Linked DNA regions of Homo sapiens: region 1 is linked to region 2. Evidence: fine-mapped expression QTL. Tissue or cell type: whole blood. Region 2 holds a variant in brackets; the other region holds the start of a gene. All regions are shown on one strand. Distances are from middle to middle.

Region 1 (11,616 bases), 33 kb after region 2:
CCTCAGTCAAGCTTTCAGATGACAATACAGGCTGATGGATGCTTTGATTGCAGCCTTGTGAAACCTTAAGCAAAGTTAAGTTGTGCTGAGACTCCTGACTCAAGAAACCATGACATAATAAACGTGTGTTGCTTTAAATTGCTAAATTGGCGATAATTTGTACATACCAATAGAAAACTAATATACCATAGTATCTTGGTTTTTCCCTATGCTTGGGGTGCAGTAAATTCTTAGTAGATTACAGCTGCTATTATTATAATAATCAAAATGGAAATCTGAAATATCGAGGTCAAGAAAAAAGTTAACAGAGAAATTTAACAGAGTTAAATAATTGCTTCCAAAGTAACCAAGCGGCTGGTGTAGAAGACAAAAAGATGATATGTTGAAGACTTGTATATTACTCCCAACAAGTATTGAGTACATTATCATCACCACATAAAATATTATAAATTTTCTAGTGGTGCTTATATCTACATTTAGCTTTAATATCTTACACCATACTCAAAGTAAACTGGAAAGTTTTCCTACATTAAGATAGTCCTATATTACCTATGAAGAAATATCAAAACACAGTTTCAGGTTAGAGTCATATTGTTATAAATTATCATTTATATTTTTATATACTATATATTAGCTGTATCAAAAATTGTAAAATTTTTTAAATTATAAAAACACATATAATTATATATTTATATATATAACATTTAAGAATAGCTCAAATATGATGCATAAAATAATTCAGGACATTATTGGATCCAAACCCTAATGAAACAATTACCAGCTTGACACCTTCAGTTCATTAGTGCATGTAAATCTTGCTTATCAAAGATAGCTTATTTATACTAAACACACAATATAATTACACATATTTAGCTGTAGAGTAGGTTAAGAATGTGGATGGGTTTCCATTGCATAGATTCAAGGTTTGCTATCACAGAAAAAAGAAGCTAGTGCTTCTATCTTACTAAATTGGAAAATTATTTTTCTCATTGTTCATTCTATCAGTGCCCCCTTTCCCCTCTGTATTTATATAGCACGGGAATGTATAGTTTCTATCAAATAAATCATTAGAAAGGCAATGTTCAGGCCGGACATGGTGGCTCACGCCTGTAATCCCAGCACTTGGGGAGGCCGAGGCGGGCAGATCGTGAGGTCAGGAGATCACGACCATCCTGGCTAACACGGTGAAACCCCGTCTCTACTAAAAATACAAAAAATTAGCCAGGCGTGGAGGCGGGCGCCTGTAGTCCCAGCTATATTGGGAGGCTGAGGCAGGAGAATGGTATGAACCTGGGAGGTGGAGCTTGCAGTGAGTCGAGATCGTGCCACTGCACTCTAGCCTGGGTGACAGAGCAAGACTCCATCTCAAAAAAAAAAAAAAGAAAGGCAGTGTTCAGTGATTGAGTAGCTATGTTAACCTTACTACTGCCACCTATACAAATATGCACAGAATACACAGTAAACATAAACATAGCCCTTTTATAGGTGTTATGGCATTAGAAAATTTGCCATTCTCCCTCTAATTAGAACATATAACCTTGATGGACTATCACTTTTCATGTGATTGGTCGGTAACAGATATAATAAATATGCCAAATACAGTGTTAGTGACATGGTAGCTAAATATTTTCTTCCTGATTCCTTTTTTTGAAGGCAATGATGGAATCTTAACTCCTATCCATTTCTTAATTTTGTATTAATTTCTTAATTTTCTATCATCTGTGCTTTCTGGAAATGTACACTAATAATATATCTATACCTATTTATTTGTGATTTGGCTTTTAGCTCTCATACTGACTGAAATGATTCAAGTGATAGCAAGTGAACATAGTAATTAATTTGAAATTTATCTAGGTTTAAATGAAATTGCTTGCCCAGTTTACACACTTTAAAAAAATTTTTGCAAACCTGATCATCAGCATTTACTTTCCTGTTTAGATTCAAGATTATGAATTGTTCTGTGGAAAAGTAAAAGTAAAAGTAAACATTGAGCTGGATCTCTGAAAGAACTAAGCACGACACTCAATGTGTATTTTCTTCCTATGGTATGTTATCAACAGATGGATAATGAGGAAGCAAACCAGACTGTCTTGTTCTAGTGTCTGGGAGACAACTGACGGCTATCATTTAGTCCAAGTGCCAAGTTGGAATCTTTTCTGGAACAAGGTGGGGTATAAACACAAATATTTTTTTAAAGGCCAAACCAGCCAGGCTTAAGGAAGTTTTTGAACTGTTGTTGACTTCCTGAGGGGGGTCAAAATATAAGAATTTGCTAAATCCAATTCCTAGCATAATCTATGAACTGATTCTAGACATAAAGAAAAATTATTTTCCTTTCTGGCCTTAGATAAAACTTGGTTAATCCTCTTGTTAATATTTTCACAGTATAAACACATCTTTTTTAATAAAAAATTTTTAAACTGACAAATAATAATTATATATATTTATAGGATCCAATGTGATGTTTTGATATATGTACACACTGTGGAATAACTAAACCAAGCTAATTAACATATCTTTCACCTCACCTACTTTTTTTTTTTTTTTTAAGAGATGGTGTCTGGCTATGTTGTCCAGGCTGGACTCAAACTGCTAGTTTCAAGGCATCCTTCCACTTCAGCTGAGACTACAAGTGTGGGCCACTGTACCCAGCTTATTTTTTTTATGGTGAGAACATTTAAAATGTACTCTTGGCTGGGCGTGGTGGCTCATGCCTGTAATCCCAGCACTTTGGGAGGCTGAGGCAGGTGGATCACGAGGTCAAGAGTTTGGAGACCAGCCTGGCAAATATGGTGAAACCCCGTCTCTACTAAAAATACAAAAATTAGCTGGGCGTGGTGGTGCGCGCCTGTAGTCCCAGCGGCTCGGGAGGCTGAGGCAGGAGAATTGCTTCAACCTGGGAGGCAGAGGTTGCAGTGAGCCAAGATCATGCCACTGCACTCTGGCCTGGGCAACAGAGCCAGACACAGTCTCAACAAAACAAAACAAAGAAAGTACTCTTTTAGCTATTCTGGAATATTAAATACATTGTTATTAACTGTGGTCATCGTGCTGTGCAATAGATCACTAAAATTTATTCCTCCTACCTGAAACTTTATACCCTTTGACTCACATTTCCCCTTTCCTCATCACCCTTTACCCCCCAGTCTTTGGTAACCACCATTCTACTCTGCTTCTATGTAAACTCATCTGGTTTTATAAGTGATCAGGGATTTAAGAGGACTTCACTCTTTTACAGTTAAATTTATTTCATATTGGGGAATGATTTTCTCACTTTGTTTCTTACATAATTTTAGAGGATTGAACTTAGAAAAATATAATGTAAGAGTTTTCTCTCAACTATTTTTGATGCTTCCTTACTTTTTGTCCTCTTTCCCCAACTTTAGCTCTTTGGTGGGGAAAATATTATTTCATAAAAGTTATGTTTGCAGTTTTCAAAGTGACTTCTTAGAAGTGAAACTTGGATCAACATTTTTTTCAACCCCCCAACTATAAGAGTTACATTTTCACTTTTGATTTGTTAAAACATACTATGTCTTATAAATGCTTGAAATTTATTTTTAGGCAAGAATTTCAACATTGAATAAAATCTTCCCAAAATTAAGTCACAAGCACTCAAAGGATTGAGGATCTTTTTCTTCCTAAAATATATGTGTGTGTGTGTGTGTGTGTGTGTCTTTATATTTATATACTAAGACCTTCCCTTTCTTGTGGACTGTGTTTTATTGGTTTAAAGTTGCAAGTCCTGTGAAACCAGGCTGAAGTCAGAATTAGAAGGTATTAATTATCATACACACTCCAAGTATCTCAGTCAAGTAACAGGAATAACTGATTACAGTGTCTGGGAGGAAGGCCTGGAACTTGGGGAAGACTTGGAGGGGAGGACTGGATGGGGAAAAGGCCTCAATAGAGAGAACTGGGTTGTTGCGGAGGGGTGACCTTTAACCTTTGGAAGGGCATTTACTAGGGAACAGCTGAAAAGCATTTACTTCGAGGGGGTGGGGGAGAGGAGGAATCTCGTGGAAGTATTTGCTTTAATAGGTCCCGGGTGATTTAGGGATGTTTCGAGTCGGTTGGTCTTGGGGGTGGCGAGGGCTACGCTGGAGGGGTCGCGTCCCAGTCCCGGGGAAGGCGGCAGGAGGTTTTCTGGGTGTTCCTGAAAACTGGGAGTTGGGGGGAAGGGTGGTGGGGAAAGTGGAATTCAGCGTGGATTTGTCTGCGTGTAGGACTATTAGAGGAGGCGCAGGGGAGCCACGCGGTGTATTCCCCGCCCCGAGAGAACTCTGGCTGCGCCTGCGACGGGCACGCCGGCCTGCGCCAAGGCCGCTTTCCCCAGGCGGCGGGCGCTCCCCCCGGCCCGGGCCGCGGCCCTCCCGCCCCGGCGGAGCCGCGCGGTGGATTGTGGGCTGGGGGCTGCGGCGGCCTCCGGCGCTGTCTCCCCGCACCCGACCGGGCCGAGCCGGCTGGGCCGGCGGGGTGAGGGAAAGCAGTGGAGTCGGGAGCAGAAGCGCTAGAGGCAGTGGTCGTGGCGCGGCGGCGGCGGCTCCCCTGGAGGCCGGGGATGTGGGAGAGGCGGTGGCAGCAGCGGCGGAGGCGGCGCTGCGGACCCGGGGGAAACTGCTGGCTGACAGGACACCCGGGAGAGACGTGAGGGAGCCGCCGCTGCCACCTCTCACCCCTGAGTGAAGCTGGGCTCGAGAGGGCGGCCCTGTGCTCCCCGGGCCGACTGGCCAGCGGGCGCGGGGCGGGGGCGGGAACCCGGGCTCGGGCCCGGCCGGGCGCCGGGCGGCGGCGGCCGTGGAGCAGCAGCCTCGGTGCGACGTGGAGGGCTGGAGGCGGCGGCGATGCACTAGGCCTCGCTCAGGGCGGCTGCCCCGGGACCCGCAGGTAGGTGTGCCCCGCGGCCCCCCGCGCGTCTCAGCCCACTCTCACCCCGACCTACAGCGGAGAGAGGGACCGAGACCCCACCCCCTCGGCTCTCCTCCCCAGCCCCAAACGGACCGAGTTTCGGTCACAGCTGACCGGCACTGAAGCTTCCATGCTCCTCTCCGCCACTTCCTTTTTTTTTTTTTTTTTTCCTTTTCACTCTCCCTCCGGGATCGGGGCTGGCAGCTGTGTTCCCTGCCTCCTGTCAGCGACCGCAAACGCCGCTCTTGCCCCTCTCTTATCTTTCCGGGATCCCAGCTCTGGAACTTCCATCACCCCCTTAGACGCTGCCCCCAAACTTTCCTTTTCTTTTTCCAGCCAGGCCCTTAGTCCTATTGGATTCTACTGGAATCGTTAAAACATTTGTTTGTTTTTCTCTCCGGGGAAGGCTAACCCAAAGAGTTACTCAGTATTTTGCATTTTGGCAATGTAGCTTGAAATAATTTGTGCAATAATTTTCTTCAGTTCTGCCTCCTTCCATCTCTGCATAGACAGAAAGGGCAGGCCCTCTCTGCCGTTTCTGCTCTCCCGTCGTTGACTTGGGAACTTTGGCTTGCCAATTATAATTAGCCGTTTGGTCTGTTCATGTGTTGAGTTCAAGATGGTATTTTTAGCATTTTGACTGACAGGCGTTTCAAAAAAAAATTTTTTTCTTCTAACCAGCTTTATTTTTTGGTCTTTATTGAGGCTCTTTCGAAGAATTAAATTGTTTGGACTGTTTTTGTTTTTAATTGGCTGTATTTCTGATTTGTCAAATCAAGGGCGGTCTTAATACTAAACGCCTTTAAGTAATACCGTGATAAATTACTTGTAGTATACCGAGAAATATTACTGCGATAACCTAAACTGCAGATTTTGATGTACATTCACTTTTATAAATCCGAAGGGGAGTTCTAATTGGAAAAAGCACCTTCAGAGCCTAAATGATTTCTAAGCAGTTAAATGATGGAACAGAGGGAATGATGGGATTTGTTTGACTGTATTTGTAGTGTAGTCAGAATCGGATTTCCTAGAAATGGATGTTGATGGTTCGTAGTGCTCATCATTGCTTATGATAGGTTACCAGTAGCTGTAATTGATAGTTGTTTGGGACGACAGTAGATGTTTGCGATTTTATTGTAATTTGGCTATTTTTAAATTATGTTCTGATAACTTAAGAATTATTACACTACCAATCTAAGAGGCAGTCTGAGGATCACTTTTTTAAATAAATGAAAAATGTTTTAATGGGTTTTTAAAATAAAGAATGCATCACAACCAAATCGTAAAGACTGTTTTGTTGTTGATATTCGTATATTTTGTTCTTGTAGAAGTATTGTTACTACAGCATTTGGCTTTCTGAAGTGTTTTTGAAATTAGAATTTAATACTAAAAGTTTACTAGGAAAAGGTGATTACTTTTGCATATGCTTATATTTTCTGGAAAGTTAAAATTGATTTCTGGATAAGATAATTTTTTGTGTCAGAATTAAAGTCAATTCCTATATAGCCCATGAAACGGCAAATTTTGCAGAATTTCTTCATCACACTCTTTTTTTTTGTTTCTTTTCTTTTTTTTTTTTTGAGACGGGGTCTTGCTCTGTTGCCCAGGCTGGAGTGCAGTGGCGCTATCTTGGCTCACCGCAACCTCCGCCTACCGGCTTCAAGTGATTCTTCTGCCTCAGTCTCCTGAGTAGCTGGGACTACAGGCGCCCCCACGCCTGGCTGATTTTTGTATTTTTAGTAGAGACGGGGGTTTCACCATATTAGCCAGGCTGGTCTTGAACTCCTGACCTTGTGATCCACCGGCCTCGGCCTCCCAGAGTGCTGGGATTAGAGGTGTGAGCCACCGCCCCGGCCCCGGCCCATCACACTCTTTTTTTTTTTTTTTTTTTTTTTAATCAACAAAAGTTAATTACAATTCCTCTTTCCTGCTCTTTGCTTTTTAAAAACTGCTTTATTGAGATAAAATTAACATACCATAAAATACACCCATTTAAGGTGTACCACTTGGCCGGGTTCAGTGGCTCACACCTGTAATCCCACCACTTTGGGAAGCCTAGTCAGGTAGATCACCTGAGGTCCAGAGTTCGAGACCAGCCTAGCCAACATGGTGAAACCCCGTCTGTACTAAAAATATATAAATTAGCCGGGCATGGGGGTGAGCGCCTGTCATCCCAGCTACTGGGGAGGCTGAGGCTGGCGAATCGCTTGAACCTGGGAGGTGGAGGTTGCAGTGAGCCAAGATAGCACCACTGCACTACAGGCTGGGTGACAGAACGAGACTCCATCTCAAAAAAAAAAAAAAAATATACAATTCAGTGGTTTTTAGATTAAATAATTGTGCAACCATCACCATAATCTAATTTTAGAACATTTTCATCATTCCCTCAAAAAACCTTTATCCATTAACAGTTACTCCCCATTCTCTTCACCCCACCCCCAGCTTTAGGCAACCACTAGTCTACTTTCTGTCTCAATATTGGCCTAATGTGGGCCTTTCATATAATGCTTCTTGGCTCATAGCTTCTTGAAAAGCTTTTCCTTTAAAATCAGTGTACATGTTAAAATTTTTTATTTGAGCTAGGGAATAAGCAACTGATCACCAATATTAAAAGTGATGTTGTAAATAACTGATACACTTTTTGGTTGTATTCAGCATAAAGTTGGAGAAGGCATGAATGGCTTCAGTAACCTCAAGAGGTAGTTTGGTCAGCTCGGAATCAATAAGTAAAAGTGGGCATTTTTGTCATTGAATATTAGAATATCAGGGAAAAGATCTTAAAGGTCATCAGCTTACTTCCTGCTTACCTCGCTATTAGTTGGCAGCAACCAGATGAGGAAACATGGAGATTAGAAGCTTGAATCTCTAGGATGTGTGGCTCAAGAACCACAGCGTGGCCATGTAAAGCAAGAAATGGGACTTTGGAAGTTAGAATTGTTTAGATTCTTGTATATATGTATGTATTTGACATTTTGCTAGCAGAGCTGAGAAAGAACTGGACATTCCCCCAACTTTGGGGGAAAAGTGGGTGACTATATGTAGCTACATTGATGAAACCCATGTTACAAAATCCTCTAAAAATGCTTTAACCTAAGGAAGGGTAGCAAATGTATTATTTAGATATCTTCTTATACTATTAATGTCTTATTTTTTTAAATCCAAATTTTAAAAAAATATAATTAACAGGGCCAGTTGGAGGTTTCCTTTTTCAAATATCCAGTGCCCTAACATCTAAAACAATGGCTCTGCGAGGACGGTTTTGACTCCAAGGGAAATTTGGCAGTGTCTAGAGACATTTTTGGTTGTCATAGCTGAAGGAAATGGTATTGGCCAAGGATGTTGCTAAATACCCTACAATGCACAGGACATACTTCTGCAAGAAATTATCCGGTTCAAAATGTCAATGGTACCATTGTAAACCTAGGGGCTGCACGATTTCTGGTAAGGACCTAGTGTTTTTGATTCCTACCAGGTGGGAGAATAGTCTCAGTGGGCGATGTTTGGTGAATTAGATTAACACCTTAGATCCTCTAGCAACTAACTCTATTTCTTTGCAAGAGGAGGAATTGAGGGAAAAATAAAAGGAAATCTGTTTACGACATGACGCAGATACTGTTTCGTATGTTTAGGTTGTCTTCAAATCTGAAAAAAGAACCCCTTTTTTTCTAAAAACAGACTTAATTTACTGCAAATTTGGACTACTATTGTTTTGAATTGTTATTTTTGCATATGTTTTTGAAATTGTAAATAGAATATAGTCATATCTTTTTTATCCAGAAGTGATTTTTTTTTTTCCTGGCAGCTTCAACTACCAAGAAAGGAGAAGTAAGCTAAGTGTTTAACTTTATGGATAACACTTATGTTATATATGTATGTATAACACTTATGTTATGTATGTATGTATGTATGTTGTGAATGTCCAGAAAAATTCCAAGCTTATAATGAATCTTTTTTTCCCCTATGAGCTCCACTTTAGACTATTTAATGTTTTTAACAAGCTTAATTTGTTGATGAAAGAAGGTAATTGACAGTTGAGATCACTTTTGCTATTTATCATCCATACCTTATGGATAAGTTACTCAAGTTATTCTTTCTGAGCCTCAGTTTTCTCATCTATAAAATAGGGGTAGTGATAATCCATGTATTACAAGGCTATTGTAAGAATTATTAAATGAGGTAATATGTATTAAGATGCAGTGTCAACTATAATATACTGTAGAAGAGTTATTCGCTTCAGAAGAATCAAATTAGGAAGGAATATAGAGGTTGTCAAAGGCAGGAATGTAGATAGTAAGGCGGAGAATAGTGATGGCTGACAGCCTCTCTAGGGAGGAGAGAAGCACTAAATACAAATATTGATAACAAACTAGTAAAATAACTAGTATATCACTATAATCTGAAACTCCTTAATATAGGGGCAAACTGACTTCCTTCTGTAGCACCTGAGAGTATCACCGTTATAGCACAGTAAAATAACTGATTATTATAATGGTGAAATTAACTTATTAAGAAAAGATTACCTTGTTTTCAAATATGCTATTTGAGAAGACTTGAAAATATATATATTTTACTTCAGAGTTAAAATTTTTGGAAGTGACTTATTCAAAAAGTTTTAGTGTTTTTAAGAGTATGCTGTCGTTATTTGGATTAATTCCCTTTTGGGGAATAATCCTTTTGTCTTCATTTACTATGCCTGCCTTCCTGTGTATTTGAAGGGTTTTTCTATTATCTGAAGGTAATTATTCTTCAGATGTGAGAATTTAACTGAAGAAATAGGGGTTGTAAGCCTGCTCACCATTTGTAAAATCTCATTTCCTTCTAGATTTCTTTTAAAATTATTTTTCATCTTTCTGGCGTGTCACTACGCCCAGCAAATTTTTGTATTTTAAGTGGAGACAGGGTTTCGCCATGTTGGTCAGACTGGTCTCGAACTCCTGACCTTGTGATCTACCTGCCTCGGCCTTCCAAAGTGTTGGGATTACAGGTGTGAGCCACCGCGCCTGGCTGGTTTCTTAAAATTTTGTTAACTGGTCACCTTTCTTTCAGAATCATATAAAAATAAGGGTAGAGGTGGTCAAAGGCCCAGCTATTCAGTAAGATTTTTATGGGGTAATTTGAGGGTGGAATAGTTGCAGACAATATTCAGAATAAGTAATGTGGTATTGATTGGTATTATATATGATATATATATATCTCTCTATATGATATATATATCTCTATATATGTGATATATATCAATATATAGATATATATATCAATATATATCTATATATTGATATATATTTATATATAAATGCTGATATATATCATATGATATATATTGATATATATTTATATATAAATGCTGATATATATATCATATATATATATCAGCATTTACTTAATAACATTATTTGATGTATACTCTATACTTAAATCTTCCCATTTGTCCCAAAAATCTTTATAGCTTTTTCCCCCCTCAAATGCAGGATTCATTCAAGGTTAATGCATTGCATTTGGCTGGTATGTCTCTTTAAGTCTCCCCCAATCTGGACTAGTCCTACCGCCTTCCTCTCTTCTTTAGGTTTATCCATTGAGAAGTAGAGACCATATGTCCTGGAGCATGTTCCACATTCTGAATTGGTCTGTTCCTCATGATTAGATTCTAGTCAGACATTTCTGGTGAGACCATCACACAGATGATGTGTATTTCTGCTGTATTACATCAGGAGGCACATGATTTCAGGCTATCACTATATCGGTAATGCAAGTTTGATCACTTGGTAAAGGTGAACTGACAGATCTCTCTACTGTTTAATAAATAATTTATAGAGGATACTTAATAGCCATGTAAATATCCTATTCCCTGACAACCCTTTAACCAGTGATTTTGGTACCCATTAATGATCCTTGCTTGAATCAGTCATTATGTTGGAGGATTACAAATGGTAACTTTTCTTTTTGCATTCCTTCTACTTTTATTACCTTCTTTGACTTTTTCAGGGCATTGAGGTCAGGTTAGATAAATTCTGAATATAGGCCACGGAATGTAGAAATCAGGTCATTCCTAACCTTTTCTGGAGCCAAGTAAATGGTGAAGATGGAAGACAGCTAAGGAAGTAGACCAAAAAGAGAACGGAGGTTTGCCAATGAAGGGGAGGTGAGAAGTAGTAGCTGGAGGAGGCAGGGAGGAGGGAAAGGGCCTTCATTTGGTGCTTGAAATTTTCTTTTCTTTTTTTTTTTTTTGATGGGCCGATGAAGAGATTAAAGATAGAATTGGGGAATAACTAATAGAAAAAGGTCCCAGATGAAGCAGGAAGAGGTAAGATCAAAAACAGCTGTTGGGGGATTAACTCTGGAAAAGAGTAGACACCTATACTCTATCTCAGAAAGTTAAGAGTTGTGTATAGATGAGAATTAGGTACATTTGGATATGAACGGAAAAAACTACATCTGGGGACTTTTTTTTTTTTTTTTTTTTTAAACAGTTACTTTTTGAGCCTTGCGTTGTTGGAAGTAGGCTAGGGGACTTGAGGAGAGTGATGAAAATGTTCCACATATTGTGGGGAATGGAGAAGAGAAGTGTTTCAAGATAAATAAGTGAAAGAATTGCTGAGCAGCATCAGAGGCTCATCTGAGATTGGAACTCATAAATTTGTAATCAGCATATTTTACTGTTTTTTCTGGCAGTGTTCTGCAAGCAGGAGAAAAGCAAAGACACACTGTATT
Region 2 (12,117 bases):
TTGGCTTAGTAAGGCCCAGAGCAGAAAGAGCTTTCTATCCTCTTCAGCCACAAAACAGTCTGTAGCAGAGGGGTCATTCAATCCACTTACCAGAGAAACAGGGCTAGAGAAAGAAACAAAATTTATTTGTTAAGTTCCTATAATATGGCCAGTACTGTGTTACACAACATTAGGGGTACCAACAATAATCATATATTTATGAGTACCTTATGACTTGGTATACAGCTATAAAATGATAAAGCTAATAGAAGAATATATAGAATATATGTAAGACTTTGGAATGGGAAAGAATTTTGTAAATTAGACCCAAAAAGCACAAGACATGAAATTTTGACTGCACGAAAATTACGGATTTCTGTTCAGTGAAGCCCATCATAAACAAACTTACACAGACAGAGGATAGACAGAAAGAAAACATTTGGAAGATATTTCACGCCAACAAGGAATTCAAACCCAGAATATACAATAGTGCTCCTTATCTGCAGGGGATACATTCCAAACTTTGCCAAGTGTATGCCTGAAACTGTGGATAGCACCAAACCTTATATATACTATGTTTCTTTCTTTTACATACATACCTCTGATAAAGTTTAATTTGTAAATTAAGCACAGTAAGAGATTAACAATAACTAATAATACAATACAACAAATTATAATAATATAATAGCATTACTACTCTTGCAATTTGTGGCCATTATTAAATAAAATAAGAGTGACTTGAACACAAGCATTGAGATACCACAAATTATTCTGAGAACCGGCAGGGCTACTAAGTGACTAAGGGGTGGGCAGCATGTGGTTACATGCTAGACAAAGGAATGATAAGGGCCTTGGGCAGGATGGAGCAAGATGGCACAAGATTTTATCTCACTAGTCAAAATGGCATGCAATTTAAAGCTTATGAATTGTTTATTTCTGTAATTTTCCACTTAATATTTCTGGACTAAAGATGGTAGGTAACAAAACTCGGAAAGCAAAACCTCAGATAAGGGGGGACGACTTTATAAGGAACTCCTATAAATCAGATAAAGTACCCAAGAGAGACATTGACAAAAAGTATGAATAGCCAACTCTCAGAAGTGGAAAACCAAATGCCTAAGAAGGATTGAAGAGAAGTTCAGTGTCACTAGTAAACAGAAGAATGGAAATTAAAACTATTTGACATACCGCCTTACATTACACCCAATAGATTTATAAAAATTAGAAAGTTGGGAAATCTTGGCAATCTTGGCAAAGGTGTGGGAAACAAAAACCCTCATGTGCTGCTGCCGGGAGTGTACACAGATACAGGTATCCTAGAGAGCACTGTGGCAGTATCTCTGTGTGTGTGTGTGTGTGTGTGTGTGTGTGTGTGTGTGTGTGTGTGTATTTGTGCGCATGCGCACATGCACACACGTGCATGCTCACTGACAACCTACAATCCAGGAATCCCTCTCCACACAGGTTCATGAAGAAATACACACAAACATGTCTATCACAGGATTGTTTGTGGTACAAGAGAGTTCGGGGCAGTCTGGGAGTCCACCACTAGGGGCCACAGATATGTTAAGAGGATCAGATGATCATGACATGATCATGACACATAATATGGAATCTTATGCAGCAGTTAGAAGAAATGCGCTAGCTGTGCATAAAGGAACATGAATAGAGCTTAAAAACAGCATTGCATCAAAAAGCAAGAAACAGAATGAGAGCCATTGAACATTACAGATTTAACACATATATTCATAAAGCAGCATTATAGAAAAAACAACCTGGGGGTACACTCATATCCAAACACTTATTAATACATCAGAGTGACTGCCAGTGCTGGCAATCAAGGAGGAAAACAATGAAGTAAAATAAAACAAAAAGGTCCTCTCATGGATGATCACATACAGTGATCTGAGGAAGGCGATTAACTCAAATCTTTGCACTTTAAGTCCAAAAGAAGAAAAAAGGAAAGATCTAAATCCTATCTTCCTTTCTTGAAGCTTTTTCATCCCATAAATGAGATGCAACATCTGATTTTTGAGATAATCCATGTAAACATCTGTGCAACTAGCAACTCAAGGATCATCCATCTAGCTGGTTCTTCCGGGTCTCTGGGGACACTTGAGCAAAGCACACATCCATGAGATGCCAGAGGGTAGAAATAAAACAGAGTGAAGGATACCCTTGTAAACTCAATTCCATAAACCAAAGCCTAAATACGGCCTCATTTATGAAACTAGAAGTGCAGTGTAAAACCAAGAATAAAGAGATTGCAGTGTCAGATCAGTGACCCTAGCGTGGTTATTTCCATCAAACAAAATGGAAAGTTATCTAACAATGAAGCACAGAAAAGAGAAAACAAACAGGTAGCTCTGCGTCATCTGCAAAGACAATGTAGTTGGTAAAGTCAGATTATTTGGCATAATCAGGCAATATAAAATGTATATATGTACATATATATATATATATACAATTTTTAAAGTGAGTTGATCTTAGGATTTTGTTCACTTCAAATTGCTTTCAGCCAAACAGGAAACACAAAAGAGCCCGGTTTGATTCCAGAACTCTTCCTTTTTAAGGCTGCCAGGTCTGTCCTCTTGCAGGGAATGAAAGTGAACAAGGCTGAATATTTCTCTGTGTTTCTGAGAAGGGCTTGTCTGACCCAAGTCCTTGCACCTGCATGCACCACCTGTGGCATGAGTCTGTTGCCCTTTTTCAGTTTGTTCTTTCTTGTCTCCAACTGTCTGCCTAGACAGATGACTGCTGGTAATTCACATGTTTTTCCTTCTCCTTAGCTTTAATACTATAGCCACTCCACTTAAATTACACTCCAAGGTAAGCAGGAATTGGTTTTAAATGGAACCCTGAGAGATGGGGAAGTGAGGAAGGTGGGGGATGACTTCTTGATTCCTTGGTGCTGTATTATCACTTGATTCTTCCTCTGAGTTATCTTTTGTACTTAAAATTCCTTTATTTCGCCATTAAAGTGAGTGAGCCTATAAACTGTACTCACTCTGGATACTTAGGTATTTGAAAATGTTTTTGGCTACCATTTCATTTGGCTAGCATTTTATAGTGGACTCACCTACAGATTTAACTAAAAGTCTAAGATACCCTGTAGCAGCACATCAATTTAGGGAAAACTAGCTTTAAAATGTATAGAAACTTAAGAGTACATAACTTTAAAAGTATATAAAGACATACTACTAAACTAAAACGATCACAAAATCTTAGAATTTTGTAGGAGAAAAGAACCTTAGCAAGCACTGACCAGTTTTCAGCCTCTTTTTTTTTTTTCTGCCTCCATACTGCTTATATTTGCAAATTCTCAGTAACATGGCTTCTACTTAATGAGTCTCACCTGGGAGAACAAACATGCACTGTAGCTTGAAAAGATCACCTCTCTCTTTCCCCATGCCAAGTTTATTAGTTTTCAGAGACCATTTGTTGCTAATTGATGATAAAAGTAATATTGTGATTCATGACTTTCCCTGTTTTTTATCTACCAGCCTGTGCCTCACTTTGAACTGTGCGACATAAGACAGGACCGTGGCTGGGCACGGTGCCTTAAGCCAATAATCCCAGCACTTTGGCAGGCCAAGGCGGGCAGATCACGTGAGGTCGGGAGTTCAAGACCAGCCTGACCAACATGGAGAAACCCCATCTCTACTAAAAATACAAAATTAGCTGGGTGTGGTGGCACATGCCTGTAATCCCAGCTACTCAGGAGGCTGAGGCAGGAGAATCGCTTGAACCTGGGAGGCGGAGGTTGCAGTGAGCTGAGATGGAGCCATTACATGCCAGCCTGGGCAACAGAGCGAGACTCCATCTCAAAAAAATAAAAATAAAAAAAATTTAAAAGACAGGGCCATGAACACAAAACAACTGTGTCTCCATCTGCAGAGAAGCACTGAGTATCTGGACATTGTTTAGTGTCCTTTTTAACCTTATAATTAAATTCCACACTTCCCCTGCTATTGTTTAAAGTATTTAGCACTCAACCAAATGTATTTTTATTGGCTATTAGTACTAAAGTAGTTACTATCTTATCAAAAGCCTATTAACAAAAGCCAAGGCACAATTTTTTCCCATGCAGTCTCTGGCTTTGATTTTTTAAAAAAAATTTTTTAGACATATTCATGTAGAAAAGTTACAGAATACGGATGAATAGAAAAACAGTTTTTCTTAATCTCACCACCTAGAGAAAAGAGCATCTCCCATGTACACTTCTAGTCTTCATTTTCATCTTAAGAATATTTTACTTAAAAAATGTCACCCAAACAGACTTGTGTCTACAAAGGTGAGCTTCTGAGAAACCAACTTCCCTTGTGCAGCAGCAGACTCTGCTTTAGAGGGAAGGAAGCGGCTCACATCCTGACTAACAGGGGGTCATTGTTACTCTCTCAGAATTGGCATAATGCCTTCTTCTTCAGCCAGAAAGACAATTATGTGACAGAAAATCTAAGAGGTGGGCCTGCCTTAGGGAAAAGTGGCTTAAAAGCAAATTTGACTCACATAAAGAGAGTGCTAGGTATTTTCCTTGCTTGCTTTCTCTGTAATTGTTACAGCCCAGAAAGACATGGGTTTGAGTCCCAGTTATTCCTTACAAGCCAGGTAACCTTGGATAAGTTACTAAAGTCCCTCTCTGCTACAGTTTCCTCATTTGTTAAATAGGAACAATAATAGTACCAACTTGACTGAGTTCTTGCAAAGACCAGCAAGTTACGTAGGGGCCAAGGGAGAGCTTTCCTCGTGGCCCTCAGAAGGTTTGCTGAAAAACCAACTCAAAAAAGGTAGACTAATTGGAGAAAAGACATTCAAATTTATTTAACGGGAATACACAAGAGCCTTCAGAATGAAGACCAAAACACGCAGGGGAAATTGTCATTTTTATGCTTAGGTTCAACAAAGTATGGCCAGCTGTATAGGAACATGACTGGACAAAAAGGGTAAGATCTAATGGCCGGAGTGGGGAAACCCAGCAAGGCCTGTCCGTCTAGATTCTTCTTGGCGTCTCTGAGCACGCATTCCTTCCTTCTGGGTGTGGGACAGGACCCTCTCTGGAACCAGGGTCTTATGTCCTACAGTCAAATAAGGGAGGTCAGATAATTTCTTCATGGCCAGTTTTTATACAGAAAGGTGGAGGGAAAGTTAGAGTAAAATTGTAGGTTTTATGACTAGCTTTGGGTAAAGGGGTTCTGGTTTCTATGACCCACCTTCGGGAAGAGGGATTCTAGTTTCTGCGGCTGGCCTCAGTGGAGAAAGGATTAAGAGACAGGAGGGCAGGAGAAGGTCAAAGAAAAACTTCTGTTTCTGAGGTTGCTTTCTGAGGTCTTTGTTTTAGGGTATTGTTTTCCGAGCCCAAACAGTTCAACAGAGTTTTTAGTGCCTGGCCTGCAGTAGTAAAAAGGTTTCAACAAATGTCAGCAGCGTTACTGTGGTTGTGGATCAGTATGAGGATTATATGAGATACTCTATTTGAAACTCCTGCCACACTTAGGAATTAGTATTTCAATAATTAGCATTACAGGGAGGGTTTGTTCTTAACTACTCACCTTTTCACTTGGCCACACTCCCTGTTTTTTTCTTCTAGTCCACTGCTATCTGGTAGCAGTTTCTGTGATGATAAAAATGGTCAATTATCCGTGCTGTCCAACATGGTAGACGCTAGTCACATGTGGCTGTTGAGCTCTTGAAATGTGGCTAGTGCAACTTAGGAACTGAATTTTTCATTTCAATTTTAATTAATTTCAATAGTCCCACCTAGTCCCTTGATTTCTGTCTGCTCCTATCCCTGTCTAATCACCCATATTTCCTTTAGGCATAAAGTAGATTCATCTATAGGGACTTCGGTCAATCTCTACTCATTTACGCTAAGTTTTGAATAATGTTTTCTACATAGCACTTTATTGATAAATTATACATACAATCCTACCATTAAGAAATCAGAAACAGACCTGGCACAGTGGCTTATACCTGTAATCCCAACACTTTGGGAGGCCGAGGCAAGTGGATCTCTTGAGGTCAGGAGTTCAAGACCAGCCTGACCAACATGGTGAAACCCCGTCTCTAATAAAAATACAGAAAACTCCTATGGGCATGGTGGTGAGCGCCTGTAGTCCCAGTTACTTGGGAGGCTGAGGCACGAGAATCACTTGAACCTGGAAGGCGAAGGTTGCAATGAGCCAAGATCATGCCACTGCACTGCAGCCTGGGTGACAGAGTGTGACCTTGTCTCAAAAAAATTAAAATTAACAAAAAATTAAAAAAGACAAAAAAGAATTCAGAAACAAATTGGATGTATTTCCAGCATCAAGCTTCTCCACCAAGTCTGCCTTTCCTTTTATTAAGCACTTTGCAAATTTGAATGCAAGTAACTGAATAACCTTAAGAAAACCATTTGGCAGATTAGTTTAAAAGGCTGCGGCCAGGCGCAGTGGTTCAAGCCTGTAGTCCCAGCACTTTGGGAGCCTGAGGCGGGCGGATCACGAGGTCAGGAGATCAAGACCATCCTGGCTAACACGGTGAAACCCCATCTCTACTAAAAATACAAAAAAATTAGCCGGGCATGGTGGTGGGCGCCTGTAGTCCCAGCTACATTGGGAGGCTGAGGCAGGAGGATGGCGTGAACCCGGGAGGTGGAGCTTGCAGTGAGCCAAGATTG[C/A]GCCATGGCATTCCAGCCTGGGTGACAGAGCAAGACTCCATCTCAAAAAAAAAAAAAAAAAAAAAGGCTGCTTTACACATCTGGAATGGAAAGGGGGGTACTTCTGCTATCAAATGCCCTCCTTCACAAAATACAGCAGGATAATTGTTGATCTGCTTCAATCTGTGTCTCCCTGCTCCAATCCGTGTCTCTCTGTGGGCCCTTGCTCAGAGATGCCATGTGGTGTCTGAACTTGACCAGACTCCCTGAGGGCAGCCACCAGTTTCTTCAGAGGCAGCAGCTGTGGGATTGAGCCCCAGAAGTGAGTTTACACTCCCTTTTCCAGGGCTTAGGATCTCTGCTTCTCTTCCCTCTGTGATAAAGCCAATTTCAACTTCAGGGTCAGGTAATCACTTGACACGTCTATCAAGGAAAAGCAATAAAACCCTAAACAATTTTGCATTAGATCAGACTAGCTCTGTCTTCTCTCCCAGGGAAAGGCTGCCACCTGCTGTAAAACATCAGCACTGGGCTTTTCCAAGGTCACTGAACAACCACTTCCTCCCATACAAAATTAACGAAAGCACAACCACACTTGCCTTCACCTCTGCATGTCAAGAGTGTAAAGAGGAGGGCAAACCAGGAGGCACTGATGTAGAACAAGAGGCAAACTCATGCATATGAATAGTGCCCAGAAGGAACTGGCATAGCCATAACTCTGAATAAAAGAGCAGCCTCTCTTCAGCAATTAGCAACAAGGTATCACAAATTAGCTAATTCATAGTAACCTTTAGGAAATCTCCCATGACAGCCTCATTATTTCCTCCATCCTTCTAGTTCTGTGTACCTTTATGTATTCTCCACGCCCCTAGCAAGACAGGCAGGTGAAAGGATTTGATCATTTTCAGGACAGCATTCCTGAGCCTTGTTCCTGATTTCCTACAAAAATCCCAAATTGCAGCCGGGCGCAGTGGCCCATGCCTGTAATCCCAGCACTTTGGGAAGCCGAGGCAGGCGGATCACCTGAGGTCAGGAGTTTGAGACCACCCTGGCCAACATGGAGAAACCCCGTCTCTACTAAAAATACAAAAATTAGCCAGGTGTGGTGGCGCATGCCTGTAGGCCCAGCTACTTGGGAGGCTGAGGCAGAATTGCTTGAACCTGGGAGGTGGAGGTTGCAGTGAGCTGAGATCGCACCATTGCACTCCAGCCTGGGCAACAAGAGCGAAACTCCATCTTAAAAAAAAAAAAAAAAAAAATATTCCCAGGTTGCTCCTTGGGATTTTTGCAGGAGGCCAAAAATGGGAGCAGGCCTAGCACAGTGTCTATCTCATTGCATAAAAGCTTGAATTGTTTGTTTGTTCTGTCTTTGGTGGGGACAGTGTGCCCAAGAAAAGGAAGAACATTTCCCAAACTCAGAAAAAAGAAAGCAAAGGCATTTGGGACATGCCACCCCAAAATATGCTACTTTGGTATACTAATTATTTGAAGCTGAAGACACTTGAAAGACAGCAAATGCAGGGAGAGGCTTTCTCTGAACTCTCCCTTACCTGCCTGAAGACAGATCCTCCAAAATGAACTCAGTTGTCATTAATTCCCCTCTCTGGTAGGTTAATCAACCAGGAAGATTGACTATTACAACAGGACAGAAGATTAGAAGTGGACACCACTTCTATTACATCTATAATAGAATGTAAGAGTTTGCTACAAACGATTCCATCTCCCTAAGGGCTCATTCTTTCCCCCAAATTATTTACCCTCTCCTAAGTTGTCCATATCCCTCTTCTTCTTTCCCCTACGAAGACAGTATAAGCTCCCAAATCTCACCACTTTTTTGGGTATTCATTTTTTTTTCTCTTGTGATGCCCCATCCATGCAATAAATTTGTATACCTTTTCTCCGGTTAATCTGCGTATTGTCAGTTTGTTTCACAGACTCAAATTTTAAACCTAGGAGGGTAGAGGAAAAGTCTTTCCCTCCCCTGTAAAAGCAAGAATGAGGTGCTAGTATAGGGCCCATCATTTTATGCCCCAGAGCCTCCTCTTCCTTCTCCATTCTCCACTCCCACCCTGAGACCATTCACCATCCATCAGCTACTGTGGTCTACCCCCCAACACAACTTTTAAGAGTAGGTTTTGCTTACCATTATCTTCCTGCAAAGGGTACTCACGACTCTAAACTCCTCTCCCTGAATTGTGCCGTTGTATCTGGGAATTTATCAAACTTCAAGAATTCCTTAGGGATTCCAATGTTGAGTAAACTCAAATATAAACAAGCTGACATTTACAACTAAATATCCAATATCCAAAAAGTTTACAATATAAGAAAATAAGGCCAAACACCAATAACTTCTAAGCAAAAATAGCCGAAAGACAAATGCCTTGCTGCCTGGTTTTTAGCCTTGTAGAATCTGTGGCATTGTTATGGTTGATACAATTGTAAAATATCTGCAAAACATTTGCCAGCCTCTTGATGAAACTGAGTTATTTTCTTCACTGTAAACCACGGGAGAGCCCCAGATTGCCACTCCAACATCTCCTACCTGTATTCACAAACAGGAAGATGTAGGCTATGAAAGCAGGAAAGGACAAGAATATTTTTGTTGGTGTAAGAGAAGGCTTTTTAAAAGTTGCCTCAACAGCCAAAGAAATGAAATGAAGCCTTGTATTATCTGATCCTTCTACACATTTGTGTGTGTGTGTGTGTGTGTGTAGTTTTTCAAATAACTTTTTTTTTTTTGAGGTGGAATCTCACTCTTGTCACCCAGAGTGGAGTGCAATGGCGCGATCTCAGCTCACTGCAACCTCCGCCTTCCAGTTTCAAGCGATTCTCCTGCCTCAACCTCCCGAGTAGCTGGGATTACAGCCGCCTGCCACCACACCTGGCTAATTTTTGTATTTTTAATAGAGACAGGGTTTCACCATGTTGCCCAGGCTGGTCTCGAACTCCTGACCTTGTGATCCGCCCGCCTCGGCCTCCCAAAGTGTTGGGATTACAGGCATGAGCCACGGTGCCCAGCCTCAAGTAACTTTTAAGGCAACATTTTATTTAAAATTCTGCCTCTTTAACTTTCATTTTTTTTTTTTTTTGCTTCTATAGTTTTTTATTTGCATTCATTTAACACACAATTTTATAATTTACACATTTTTAATGTCTTGAATTATTCCTTTGAGTTGTTATATAAAAATTTACCTAGTTGTTGAAGTTTAGTTTCCTATGTTTTTCATTTTAGTTCATACTGAAATAAATATGTTTGTGGAAAGTGCTTTTCTCCTTACTGCAAGTTAATCTACAATCCATTACAGTGAAGAGCATGTGGCAATGCTCAGCAAATATTATAATTTTGTATAATAAATTATCAAGAATGAGAATATGGGGTAAAACAAACATTGAAACAATTCTGGTGTAAAAAAACAACATCTTGATACAGATTACTAAATAGCTTTCTAAAATAATTCTACTTATTTGCTATGTCAACAGATAAGTTGTTTAACACATTATTTCCATCGATACATCTTTTTAAATCTTATTCATTAAGAAGAGATTAAGGTATGACAAGAATACTGGTTAAATCAAAGGACATAGAGAGTATGAATGAATATGGAGAGTGTGGGTCACATTTTCAATTTTTTTTTTTTTTTTTTTTTTTTTGAGACACAGTTTCGCTCTTGTCTCCCAGGCTAGAGTGCAATGGTGCGATCTTGGCTCACTGCAACATCCACCTCCCAGATTCAAGTGATTCTCCTGCCTCAGCCTCCCAAGTAGCTGGGATTACAGGTGCCTGCCACCATGCCCAGCTAATTTTTGTATTTTTAGTAGAGATGGGTTTCGCCATGTTGGCCAGGATGCTCTCGAACTCCTGACCTCAGGTGATCCACCTGCCTTGGCCTCCCAAAGTGCTGGGATTATAGGCATGAGCCACCTTGCCCAGCCTCAACTGTTTTTAAAATCTTGACTATAGTTTAATTTTTCATTTAAGTCCGCATTCTAACTTGCAGGGCAGAACATGTAATGGGATCAGTTAACCATCCCAATTTGAACATCTTAAATCTTGGATCGGTTTTAGCCCAAAGGACCAAAGTGGGTTTGAATTTGTTATAAGGTGAATTTCCAGCTAGCAGGGAAGGACAAGAGGCCACAGAACTTGGCCATTCAAAGTGTGGTTTGCAGACCAGCTGCGCCAGCACCACCTGGAAGCTTGTTATTAGGTTGGTGCAAAAGTTATTGTGGTTTTTGCCATCAAAACCGCAATTACTTTTGCACCAGCCTAATAGAAATGCACAGTCTTGGGCTTCAGCCCAGAGCAACTGAATCTTAATCTGCATTTCAACAAGAGCTCCAGGTGCTTCTTATGCACATTGAGTTGGAGAAGCCACCTTCTAGACAGTGAAAATTGCTACTGCCAGTTGTCTAAGGGCTTTAGTAGAAAAGATAGTTCACCATGAATATTAAAACATGAATCTAAAGGTAACAAAAAACCTTCTATAATTTTAATTTGGCTGGTTCTTTTGAAAACATTCTTTATAGTATAGTTCGGCTTTTAAAAAAGTCAAATATAGGCCGGGTGCGGTGGCTCACGCCTGTAATCCCAGCACTTTGGGATGCTGAGGCAGGAGAATCGCTTGAACCTAGGAGTTAGAGGTTGCAGTGAACTGAGATCGCACCATTGCACTCCAGCTTGGGCAACAAGAATGAAACTCCGTCTCAAAAAAAAAAAAGTCAAATATATTATGGAGAGTTTTAATACAAGCTTCTTTTATTTAAACCATCCTAGCAGATAATGGATTATCTGATTTCTAAAACCAAGCTCCTCAGGACCTAGAAGAGAAAGCTTGGCAGATCAGGAACAAGAAAGTCTGGGGAAGGATGGGTATATGTGAATAGGCACAAAGTGGGCATGAAGATTACATGGTAATGCCTACCAGCAAGCACCATCTACCACCAAAGAGGCACTAAACAACCAGAAGTCAAAATGACACGGCTGGTTGACTTCAGCTAGCTTTCATCATCAGCATCTAGTGCTAATATGTTATATACAAACAGTGTACATGGCCGGGCATGGTCGCTCACGTCTGTAATCCCAGCACTTTGGGAGGCCAAGGCGGGCAGATCATTTGAGGTCAGGATTTTGGGACCAGCCTGACCAACATGGTGAAACCCCATCTCTACCGGAATACAAAAATTAGCCAGGCATGGTGGCAGGCACTTGTAATCTCAACTACTTGGGAGGCTGAGGCAGGAGAATTGATTGAATCCAGGTGACAGAGGTTGCAGTGAGCTGAGATCATGCCACTGCACTTCAGCCTGGGTGACAGAGCAAGACTCCCTTTCAATAATAATAATAAATAAAAATAAACAGCGTACCATCGTGGCAGAGTGCAGGGTATGAAAGGTCTTAAAAACATGGGCTCTTGGGAAGTCGAGGCTGCAGTGAGCTGTGATTGCACCACTACACTGTAGCCTGGATGACAGAGTGAGACCCTGTCTCAAAAAACAAACAA

The links. PIP is the estimated chance that this variant, and not a neighbour inherited with it, causes the effect.
Region 1: VPS54 starts here. The variant in region 2 is fine-mapped to the expression of VPS54 in whole blood (TOPMed, PIP 0.97).

What each region holds. Positions count from the first base shown.
Region 1 is chr2:64,012,209-64,023,824 of GRCh38, reverse strand. VPS54 (VPS54 subunit of GARP complex) reads left to right here and starts at 4,397. Exons shown (of 23, transcript NM_016516.3): 1 at 4,397-4,887. RefSeq lists a silencer at 4,274-4,983 and an enhancer at 5,144-5,213.
Region 2 is chr2:64,044,896-64,057,012 of GRCh38, reverse strand. No RefSeq gene overlaps it. Among named protein-coding and RNA genes, the nearest start is that of VPS54, 32 kb to the right of the region's middle. The variant C/A (reference allele first, on the strand shown) is at 6,638.